2 separate regions of the Homo sapiens genome follow, and region 1 is linked to region 2. The links come from fine-mapping of genetic effects on gene expression. A gene starts in region 2. The other region holds a variant in brackets. All regions are shown on one strand. Distances are between the middles of the regions. Region 1 holds the start of SULT1C2 (sulfotransferase family 1C member 2). Region 2 holds the start of LINC01594 (long intergenic non-protein coding RNA 1594).

The links.
Region 1: its variant is fine-mapped to the expression of LINC01594 in stomach (GTEx, PIP above 0.99). The same link has a PIP of 0.9 or more in kidney cortex, pituitary and thyroid.

Annotation. Positions count from the first base shown.
Region 1 is chr2:108,286,286-108,291,673 of GRCh38, forward strand. It overlaps SULT1C2 (sulfotransferase family 1C member 2), which reads left to right and starts at 2,610. Exons shown (of 8, transcript NM_001056.4): 1 at 2,610-2,785. The variant C/T (reference allele first, on the strand shown) is at 2,289.
Region 2 is chr2:108,215,023-108,220,410 of GRCh38, forward strand. LINC01594 (long intergenic non-protein coding RNA 1594) reads right to left here and starts at 2,819. Exons shown (of 5, transcript NR_131251.1): 1 at 2,673-2,819.

The sequences.
Region 1 (5,388 bases), 71 kb after region 2:
CATTCATTTGTTTATTCATTCAGTAAGTATATTAATCCAGTTGAATGGGTACATGGTACAGGTGGTCTTAGAGATAGGCCCCAATCGACACACTGGGAGGGTAGTTAATTTCCTCATTCAAGTAAAAACAGAAAATTGCTGTAAGAGAAGGCCAAATTAATCCTATGGACCACACATTGTATGATTCAATTTATATAAAATGTCCACAATAGACAAGTCTATAGAGACACAAAGTAGATTTTGGTTTCTTAAAGCTGGAGATGGTGGTAGGAGGAATTAGGCATGACTATTAATAAATATGGGGTTTCATTTTGGGGTGATGAAAATATTCCAAAATTGAGTGTGATGATGGTTGCACAACTAAAAACATTGAACTGTACACTTGGGTGAAGTGCACAGTATGTGAATTTGATCTCAATAAAACTTATTTTTAAAAAAGCATATGGTAGTTCACAGAGAGATTGCTTCCAGCTATAACCTAAGGAAAGGCTTCAAGGAAAAGATGGGTTCAAAGCTGAAGAATCTGACTCTATGGAAACAGAGTAAGAACATTTTTTTAGAGATGGGATCTCACTATGTTGCCCAGGCTGGACTCAAGTAACTGGGATTACAGGTGCACAGCAGTGTGCCAGGCTAAGAGTAAGAGCATTTTTGGCAGGGAGAAACAGGAGTAAACCAGGGAGGCAGGAAATTATAGGATGCATACAGGGGACAGTAAGTCATTCAGTTCACCTGGTGTGTGGGGCCCATGGTGGGGATGGTGTTATATTAAAGAAGGCCTTGAGCCAGGCATTCAGGAGGCTTGAAGTAGGAGGATCACTTGAGCTCAGGAGGTCAAGGCTGCAGTGAGCTATGATCATGCCTCTTCACTCCAGCCTGGGCAAAAGAGTGAGACCCTGTCTTATAAAAAATAAGAATTAATGAATTTAGAAGGTCTTGAATTCCAAGTGGAAGCACCCAGAATTTGAGCCATAAACAACCAAAGGATAGCCTGATCTGAGCTGAGCTTAATTTATATGCTGAAAGTATGAGAGACTAGTAGGGAAGAGACCAGAAATAAGGAGACTGCTAGAAGATTGTGCAACATCCCAGTTCATCCTCCACAAATGTGGAGGAAGCAGATACTAGCAGTGGTTACTAACTGTAAATTCTGGGATTGTAGAGACTGTGACCCATGCAGACAGCAAAGGCAGGGAGATGCAGCATGCAGCGCAGCATGGCACCGATACTGGCAGACACTTTAGTAGACTTAGGGACTTTAACTGCAGAGAAAATGTGAGGTTGCACTAAGAACTGTGAATCAGCCCTATGGGGCTGAAAATTGACAGCACTGGGATAAGTGGAACTGGAAAGAGAGCAGAAGTAGAAAAATAAAGTTCAGCCGGGCGCAGTGGCTTATGCCTGTAATCCCAGCACTTTGGGAGGTCAAGGCGGGCAGATCACCTGGGAGCAGGAGTTGGAGACTAGCCTGGCCAACATGGTGAGACCCCGTCTCTACTAAAAATACCAAAAAAAAATTAGCTGGGCATGGTGGCGCACGCCTGTAGTCCCAGCTACTCAGGAGGCTGAGACAGGAGAATCGCTTGAACCCGGGAGGCGGAGGTTGCAGTGAGCCAAGATTGCACCATTGCACTCCAGCCTGGGCAACAGGAGTGAAACACCATCTCAAAAAAAAAAAAAAAAAGAAAAAAGAAAGAAAAAGAAAGTTCAATTTATTGGGAAAAAAAGAGCCCTTTGGAAACAAGGAGGAAGAAGAAGTGTCGGCAAAGAAGCATTAGGAGGTTCAGGGTCAAAGAAGACAAGGAAAGCTTTGGCAAGAAGGGCAGATGGGGTGCAGAATTATGCTTCAATTCCAGAAAGGAAAGCACTGGGGTAGATACAAGGTTGGGGCTGGCAGAAGAGTAGCAGTTCAGAGATCATTAACACTTGATCCATTTAATTTCCCAGGTAACCAAAGACACCATGGAATATAATCTGCCTCCACTAAAGTGTACCTTTTGTACAATAAGGCAAAGAAAAAATAAGTACACACCTAAGCTCTAGACTTTTGTTCTATCCTCTCTGCATTTTCGGTGTGGATGAATACAACTTGGGAAGAAAGGAAAGAAGAACCAGCAGTTTTAAGCACTTACTATTTGCTCTGCAAAGTGTATTCATCAACATTGTTGCTTTCAATCTTAAAGCATGGATTGGAGACAGGCAGTATTACCCACACTTCATAGATGCAGAAATTAAATCTCAGGCTAAGGAGGAAGGAAAAGGGAGTTCACCAAATAAGCAGGAGCCTA[C/T]CTGAAGCCTGATGCATCTGGTCCTAGAGCCAACCTTCCATTTCCCCCCAGCCCCCACCTGTTTAAGCTTCGAGGCCAGTGGGAGGAGGGAGGGGCCAGGCAGCTGAGGGCCAGGAAAGATGTGAAAAACTCTAGCTGGTGACCGAGAGGAGGAGTAGAGTGTGCCCTTAGTTCATATGAACTAGAGGGAGTTGGTATTTGCACAGCAGTCAGGGTCACATGAGTGATCATGGTACAGTGAGAAGTTCTCCCTCCCAGGGCCAGGTCACAGGGTTTGTTTCTGTTCAATCCGGATTCTTCCAGTAAAAGCTTCAACTTCCCACACTGAAGCTGAGAGCCTCCCAAAGTGCTGGCTACCTGCTGAGCGCCCCCGTAACTCTGACACAGTAGTAATTTGAGCCTCTGCAATTGCCGTCTGCTTCCTGTGAAAGTCCTTTCCGTGCCCACTGACCCTTGAGTGGGCCTTTGAGCTGCTGACTTTCAGCTGGAACTTGAAGGTAAGAATATGGCTTAAAAGAAATTCTGTACCTAACTCGTTAATTTATTTTTTAACCTTTAGCCACATAGGTGTGGCTTTACAGATGCATTTATTCAAACCAGAAAAGATCCTAAGAATCTGATAAAATAATATAAAAGAGTTTTGTTAACAGCCTCCAGCCTAAAAATTCAGACCTAGAAATTCAGGACCCCCCTCAAATCACCTCCAAAAGCTCTCTCTCCTGTAATACTATCTCTGTCTCCCACCCTGATCTTTTCCCAAATACCCTCCCTGTCCCATCCTCCTCCAGGGCCAGCTCAACTTCTCTGGCCAAGACTATTTCTTCTTCCATGACAGCCCTCCTCTTATGCCAGCCATTGACTAAGACACATGCTGGGCCTGCAAGGGGACTGAACCAGATCCTGTGCTCCAAGGGTCCAGACTTATAAGCAAGTAATTGTAGGACGTGGAGTAAGACCTATAAAATTTGCACACAAAATACTATAGGATCCCATGGAAAGGAGTGATTACTTCTGTTTACAGAGTCAGGGATGCCTCCACAAAGGAGGCCATAGTGATCTGGCCTGATATGATGAAAATGTCCCTGCTGGCTGCTCAAGGGGAAATGTATGTGTCTACATGCCTGACTCTCCAAGGGCAGGAACCATGTGCTGATGTGGCCCAGCAATGAGGGGCCTGGGGAGGGTGAGAAGGACTTGGGACTTCTCCTGTGGGAACTGGCAGATCCCTCTGCTCCCACTGCACTACCCAGCTGCCTCAATCTCTTGCTGCATCTCCTTCTCCCAGCTTTAGCCAGGTTCTATCACTCCCCGTGCAGGCCTCCAACAAGAGCAATACAGTGGGATCCATAGTTCACTGGACAGCCAAGCCCTTAACCGCCCTGGTCCTCAGCAGCAGCAGGTGCCCTTCCACACATGTTCACAGCTGTGCCCAGGCCCTCGGTCATCAGCTACCTGCCCAGAGCACAACGCCTACCACAGAGTTGGTCAATGTGTTGCGTGGATTATTCTCAGGGCATTAGTTCAAGGCCAGAGCCCTAAGCTCACATGTACACCTGCCTACAGGTGTACATTGGGAAGTCCCATAAATACATCAGACTCAACCCCAGAATTGGACTCACCATCCCCTCACCCCCACCCTATGGAGGACCTTCTCACTGTGTCCTTACATGGTCTTTCCTCCATGTGCACACATCCCTGGTGTTGCCTTGTGTGTCCTAATCTCCTCTCATTACAAGGATACCAGATTGGAATAGGTCTCATCCTAGCAGCCTCATTTTAACTTAATCACCTATTTAAAGACATTATCTCCAAATACAGCCACATGCTAATATACTATGAATTAGGACTTCAACATATGAACTTAGAGAGACACAATTCAAACCACGATAATGTCCGTCTTAGTCCATTTTATGTTGCTATAACAAAATACCTGAGGCTGGGTAATTTATAAATATAAGAGGTTTATTTTGAATCATGATTCTGGTGGCTGAAAAGTCCAAGAGCATGGTGCTGGCATCTGCTCAGCTTCTCGTGAGGGCCATGCTGCATCAAGACATGGTGAAGAAATAGAAAGGCAAGCAGGCATGTATAAAGGGACCAAACTCACCCACTTCTGGGAGATGGCATTAATCTACTCATGTGGAATCCACCCTTATGGCCCAAACACCTCTCACAAGACCCCGTGTCCTAGCACTGCCACACTGGCAGTTAAACTTCAACAGAGAGTTTTGGTGGGGACTAACCACATCCAAACCACAGCAGTATCCAAAAAGTGTTTTGTAGTTTTATGTTTATATATATGTATACTTTTTGTTCATAACTATGTATAAACAGTTTTCTATCACTATCACTGCCATAACAAATTATCAAAAATTTAGCAGCTTAAGACAATACAAGTTTATTATCTCACACCTCTGTAAGTCAGAAGTCCAAACAGGTGTCTCTGGGTAAAATCAAGGTGTTGGCAGGGCTGCGTTCCCTTCTGGAGGGTCTGAAGAAGAATCCCTTCCAAGCTCATTCTGGTTGTTGGCAGAATTCAGATTCATGTGGCTGTAGGATGGAGGTCCCATTTGCTTGTTGGCTGAGGTTCATTCTCAGCTTCTGGAGGTCATGCCTTGTCTTGTGTTCCCCTTTGTCTCTAAGCCATCAATGGCAAGTTGAGTCATTCTCATGCTTCCAAACTCTCCAGCCACTTCTTCTGCCACACGACTCTCTGACTGCTCTTCTACACCCTTGTCCACTTTTAAGTGCCCTTGTGGTCACATTAGACCCACCGGGATAATACAGGACATGCTCATTGCCTTAAGGTTCTTAACCTAAATTCCATCTGCAAAGCCCTTTGCCACACAATGTAATGTATTAGGAATTAGGACGTGGACATCTTTAGGGCCATTATTCTGCCTACAACAATATACATTTGAAAAAGACAGATAGAAATACATCAAAATAATAACAACTCTTGTGTGATAGATGTTTTCCTTGTACATTTGGACTGTTTCCAAAGTTTCTGCAATGTATAACTTTAAATTCACAATAAAAAAAAACAAGAGGCAATTTTTAAAGAAGGAACATAGGATTCGTATACAGATGTTGGCTGCGA
Region 2 (5,388 bases):
AAAATATGAACAGACTCACAGCTAATAAAGAGAACAAAGAAAAGCCTAGAGCTAGATAGCTTCAGTGGCATATTCCACTGAACATTTAAATGCGAACAAAAACCCTCTCAAACTCTTCAAAAAATTGGAGACAGAAAAATACCTCCCTCATTCTATGACTCACCTAGAATAGTGAAATTTATGGAGAGAGAAGGTAGAAGTTACCAGGGATTGGAGGAGAAGGTAATAGAGACATTTTTAGTGAGTATAGTTTCTGTTTGGGATAATGAAAAAGTTCTGGAAATGGATAGTGATGATGGTTACATAACGTTGTGAATGTACTTAAAGCTACTTAATAGTACACTTAAAAATAGTTAAAATAATAGTGAATTATATGTTACGTATATTTTACAATTCTTAAAATAAATGTAATCCTTGTGGTTGTTACTCCACTACCACAGAATACACACACACACACACACACACACACACACTCCTTCAGAAAAGGAATACTTCAATTTTCTAAATTTTCTGTCTGATCACTCAAAATACTTTGATACTATGCCAAAATATCAGGAAATTTCATGTTTATTGGAATATAAAAATGTAATGAAAACTTTAGATAGTAATTGAAATGCTCTGGTATTTAACGATGTGTGTGACTTTTAAAATGTGTTTTTGATAGACTCTGATAATTTTATAAAACTACACAAACTCATACGAATTTTTCCATGCTGTCCAGTAATCGATTGATTGCTTCTCAGTCCAAATTCACTGTCTGCCCTCTCTGCGAAACTGAATCTGAACCCTTTCAATATTTTTCCTTTGCCAGCTGCTGTGATGTTGAAACCTTGTCAGCAGAGAGCACTGGAGAGACATTGTGGGAGGAAAGAGTTTTGCTTCCTGGTTCAGGGTTTTCACTGGCCAGGCTCCCGTGGTTCTTCTCCACTGTGCCAGCTCCTCTAGGTCCCACTCCTGCAGCACACATGGCTTCCCCAGGGTTCAGCTCCTGCAGTGGGGGTGTCCAGTGCTTCCCCAGCTTCCTCCCAGGATGGTTTTGTAGTAGGATGCCTCCAGGGAGACACATCCTTGTGAACACCTTCCCCACACCCTAGAGGGTGGATTTCCTGCAAGTTTCAGAGAGTAGAGCAAGTTCTTCCAGAATTGAACCGCAGTAGCTTCTCTGTTGTCCCATGAGTCATGCCACGTCCTCTCCCATAAGGTCTGGGTCTCAGTCCTGGTGGGCATGGGAAGACAGGTTCTTTTCGAAGAGGCTCTTACTCTATCTCAGCCCTAGGGATAGTGGCTGTTCCTTATATTTGATATTCCTATATTCTTCAGAGTTTTACTTCTTACTTGCCAACACCTCGTTACTCCAATCTCTTGTTAGAGTTAATCATTCTCTGTATTAAACTTTTCTTGTTTAAATTAATGTGGTTTCTCTCTCCTCTCTCCCAAAAATCCTGTGTGAGCATTTGAAATGCTTTTATTTGTGATACATATCTTCTAAACTTTCACAGAAATTTGAACATGTTTCTGACATGAATAATTGATTTTGAAATGTAAACTAACATGAGGTTTGCATGTTCTCCAATACTACTACTAATTTTTGAGTTATGTTAAAGATTTACAATAAAACATTCAATGTCCTTCCCAGATAACTTTGTGATTTAGTTCTAAGTTGCTTTATTATTTCCACATGCAAATACGTAATTTATTTCTTTGTCCATCAGCTGTTAATATTTTTGACTTTTTCCTTTTTATATAGCAGGAGATTAAAAGAACGTTTCATAAACACTCAAGTGCACCTTTAAATGCTGGGTAGGTCGAGTGGCATAGTGAAATATAGATATTGAGGAACATTATTATGTGTTTTCGTAAAACTAGACAGTGGACTCATTAGAATAATGTGGCAAAGAAATTTTAAAAATAATCCTTATAAAAGAAACATCATAAAAACAGAGAAAAAGGCTTAAATAGTATTACAGCTTTTATGTTACTTCTGCTTTCTATCTCTTCTTTCTCTGGCTCGCTTCTTAGATAATCTCATTCTCTCACATGGATTTTAAATTTCTGCAACATGGTACCATCTTCCAAATTTTTATCTCCACCTCAGATCTCAACCCTGAATTCCTAAATTGTCAGCCCAACTGCCTACTTCATATCTCTACTTCCTTGTTTTATATACATTTCAAACAGAAAAAGTCAAACCCACAAACCTAATTCACCCACTGTCTTCTTCATCTCAATTAAAAGGCAACTCCATCTTTTCAGTTGCTCAGCCAAAGCTTATTCTATTTCTCTCTCTCTTGCACACTACATCCAATCCATACATCATTTGGCTCTGACTTCAAACTATATCCAGAACATGACCTCTTCTTATCAACATTACTGTGACCAACCTCCTCTGAGTCACTGGCGTGTCTTCCCTGAAGACTTGCAATCACAACCTAATGAATATCCCTCCTTCTATGTCATAATTACCCAGTCACCATATGATCCTAAATGGATCACATCACTGTGCTGATCAAAATGCTGCAGCAGTGCCCCAACCCATTCAGTCTAAGCTGAATTGTATCACGGTCTCCTGTCCTACACCATCTGTCCCCAGGTCCCTTTCTAACCACCTTCTAACCTTTGCACACTCACTTCTCTTCAGACCTAGTGACTTCCCCACTCTTCCTTGAACTCACCTAGTGTAGTCCTGCCATAGAGACTTTGGCCTGGCATTTCCTCTGCCAAGAATGCTCTTCGATCAAACAGCTACATGACCCTCTCCTCATATCCTTCAATCTTTACCCAGAAAGCATCATTTCAGTCATGTCTTCCCTGATCATTCTACTTACAATCCAGCACTTCCTGGTTCCCCTTATTCTGCCCTAATCATTTCCATCACAAGTATCATCTCTTCTAACATACTCTACACTTTGCTCACTAAATTGGAGGCTCCAGGAAGACCATTCTCAGCCTCTGCCCATTGCCCAACAATCACATGGCCAGAACTAGAGATGATTTACAAAGGCAACATTCAAGGCCTCCCACAGGTATCCAGTGGACTGAATCTCAGAATTCTACCAGCATTGTTTTCTCACAAGAGATGCCTAGGTTATGGTTGGATCTCACATGGAAAAATATACAGGATGAGTATTCCCTGGGAAAGAGATTGCCATGGTTTGGACATTTGTCCCTTCCAAACCTTATGTTGAGATCTGATTCTAAATGTTGGAGGTGGGGTCTAACAGAAGGTGTTTGGGTGATAGTGGGAGACCCCTCAGGAATAGATTAATACCCTCCCCAGGAGTGAGTGAGCTCTTGCTCTATTCCTTCCCACAAGAGTTGGTTGTTAAAAAGAGCCTGGAAACTCCCTTCTCTTGCTTCCTGTCTTACCATGTGATTTTTGGATGCACTGACCCCCTTCACCTTCTGCCAGAAGTGGAAGCAGTCTGAGTCCCTCACCACGTGTCCAGTCTTCCAGCCATCAGAATTATGAGCCAAATAAACATTTTTTAAAATAAATTTCCCAGCCTCAGCTATTCCTTTATAGTGACACTAAATAGTCTAAAGACGGGGTGGTGGTCAAAATTCAAGCATCTTTCACCATAATGAATTGAATGTGCTGTTCATTAGTGAGACTCTGAAGACAATCTGACTTTTGACCTCTTGGGTAAAAGGTACACAAATTTAACCTTAATCATTGCACTTAATGGCCAGACTTTTTAAAACCATGAGTTTAAAAGTGTGATTCTTAGGGAGCTAGCCTGATTCCCCCTTAGAATTTTTCATAAGTCACTGTGACAACTGCAAAATATCATCAGCACAAAGACACAGCATAAAAATGAGTTACAAATACACGTCCTTAAAGGAAATAAATTCACTACTTTCTTGTCCAAGATTATGGCTAAAATTACAGCTCATTGGCACAGATTTTATATCTATCTATCTATCTATCTATCTATCTATCTATCTATCTATCTATCTATGTAAAACACTGATGAAACTGAAAAACTTGGAACAGTATCTGGTCCAAGGTAGCTGCTTAATAAACGTCTGATGAATTGAATGGAAACTGGAAGACTATCATTTATTATATGAGTCTTTAAAGTAACAATGAAGTTTCTATTTAAATGTAATTTTTAAAGTTTTGTAAATTGTGTTGTCAGTACTGACAACAATAAAATAACCAAGAAATAATATATGAGTGCTTATTGATGAAGAAATAAATTAAATGCAGTCCAATTAGGTACCAGACAAGAAAATAATGGGCTTAAATTCTTACGAATATTATAATAATGTTCAACTAACATACTTCCACCCATCGCCGTGTACTGCCATGAGTACCTCACACTGAATTGCAAATAATTTCAACATTATTGCACCAACGTCAAAATAAGAAAATGCAGAGAATCATGGCCTTTTTTCCAACCTCATGGCAGCTTAAAAAATATATCTCACCCTTAATGCATTCTAACCATGGGCCAGGTTTGGCTGTGAGAGCTGCTGCACAGACAGAACTAATTAGTCAACACTTTATGTATGGGATGTTGGATTTTGAACATAGCAGCTTTTGGTAAAATCAGAGATTTGTCCAAGGCAGACACTGAGAAATATAACAAATTAAGCTTTGATTAAGTCAGTTTTAAATGGATGACTCACACTTTTTAACGGTTGTGAACAGAAGCCAAACAGCAAATCTGAAAAAAAAATCTAAACTCTTGTTCAGAGAAGAGATTAATCTAAATCTGTGGGGAGGGAGGAGGAAAGGGGACTCAGAGCTGCAGCACCTGTGGAGAGCCTGGGACAGTCTCCTGAAGCACAGGCCAGTGTCCTATGCCTCCCTCCGACCTTGTTAGCCCACGTGGCACAGGAACACCAAGGGCCTGGTCAATGGCTCAAGGTCTTTCCTGCTCATTCCCCCTCACTTCCTGCTAGATGCAGCTATCAACAAACCAGACTCCAGCTCTGCCCCAGCCTCCACCAGACTTCAAACCAGTCTCAAAACCGAGCAGTTTAGCCCCAAAATGCATTTTAAAACTTTTTGCCATGTTTTTTTCCTCCCTAGTCTCAAGATGTAAACTTGAAGGAAACTGACAAACATATTCACAGGTTCTGGTGACTAGGATATGGATATCTTCCGGGGCCATCATTCTGCCTATCACAGGCCTTCAACTATAAATTATCATTATAAATATTATAGATTTACAGATAAGGCTTGTCCCAGGGAGACTTGGACCAAGTCTAAGGTGCAGAGTGTTCCTGAGGGCAGATAACACTCTGTCCTCACTGAAAGGATAGTGTGTTCATTGGACAGGTACACAATGAATGGTTGTCCATTAAAGGTGGTCACGTGTTGTCAGGCCACTGTGCTCCAGCATCCAAGCAGCTGGCATAGGAGAAAGGAGAGGCCTCCGG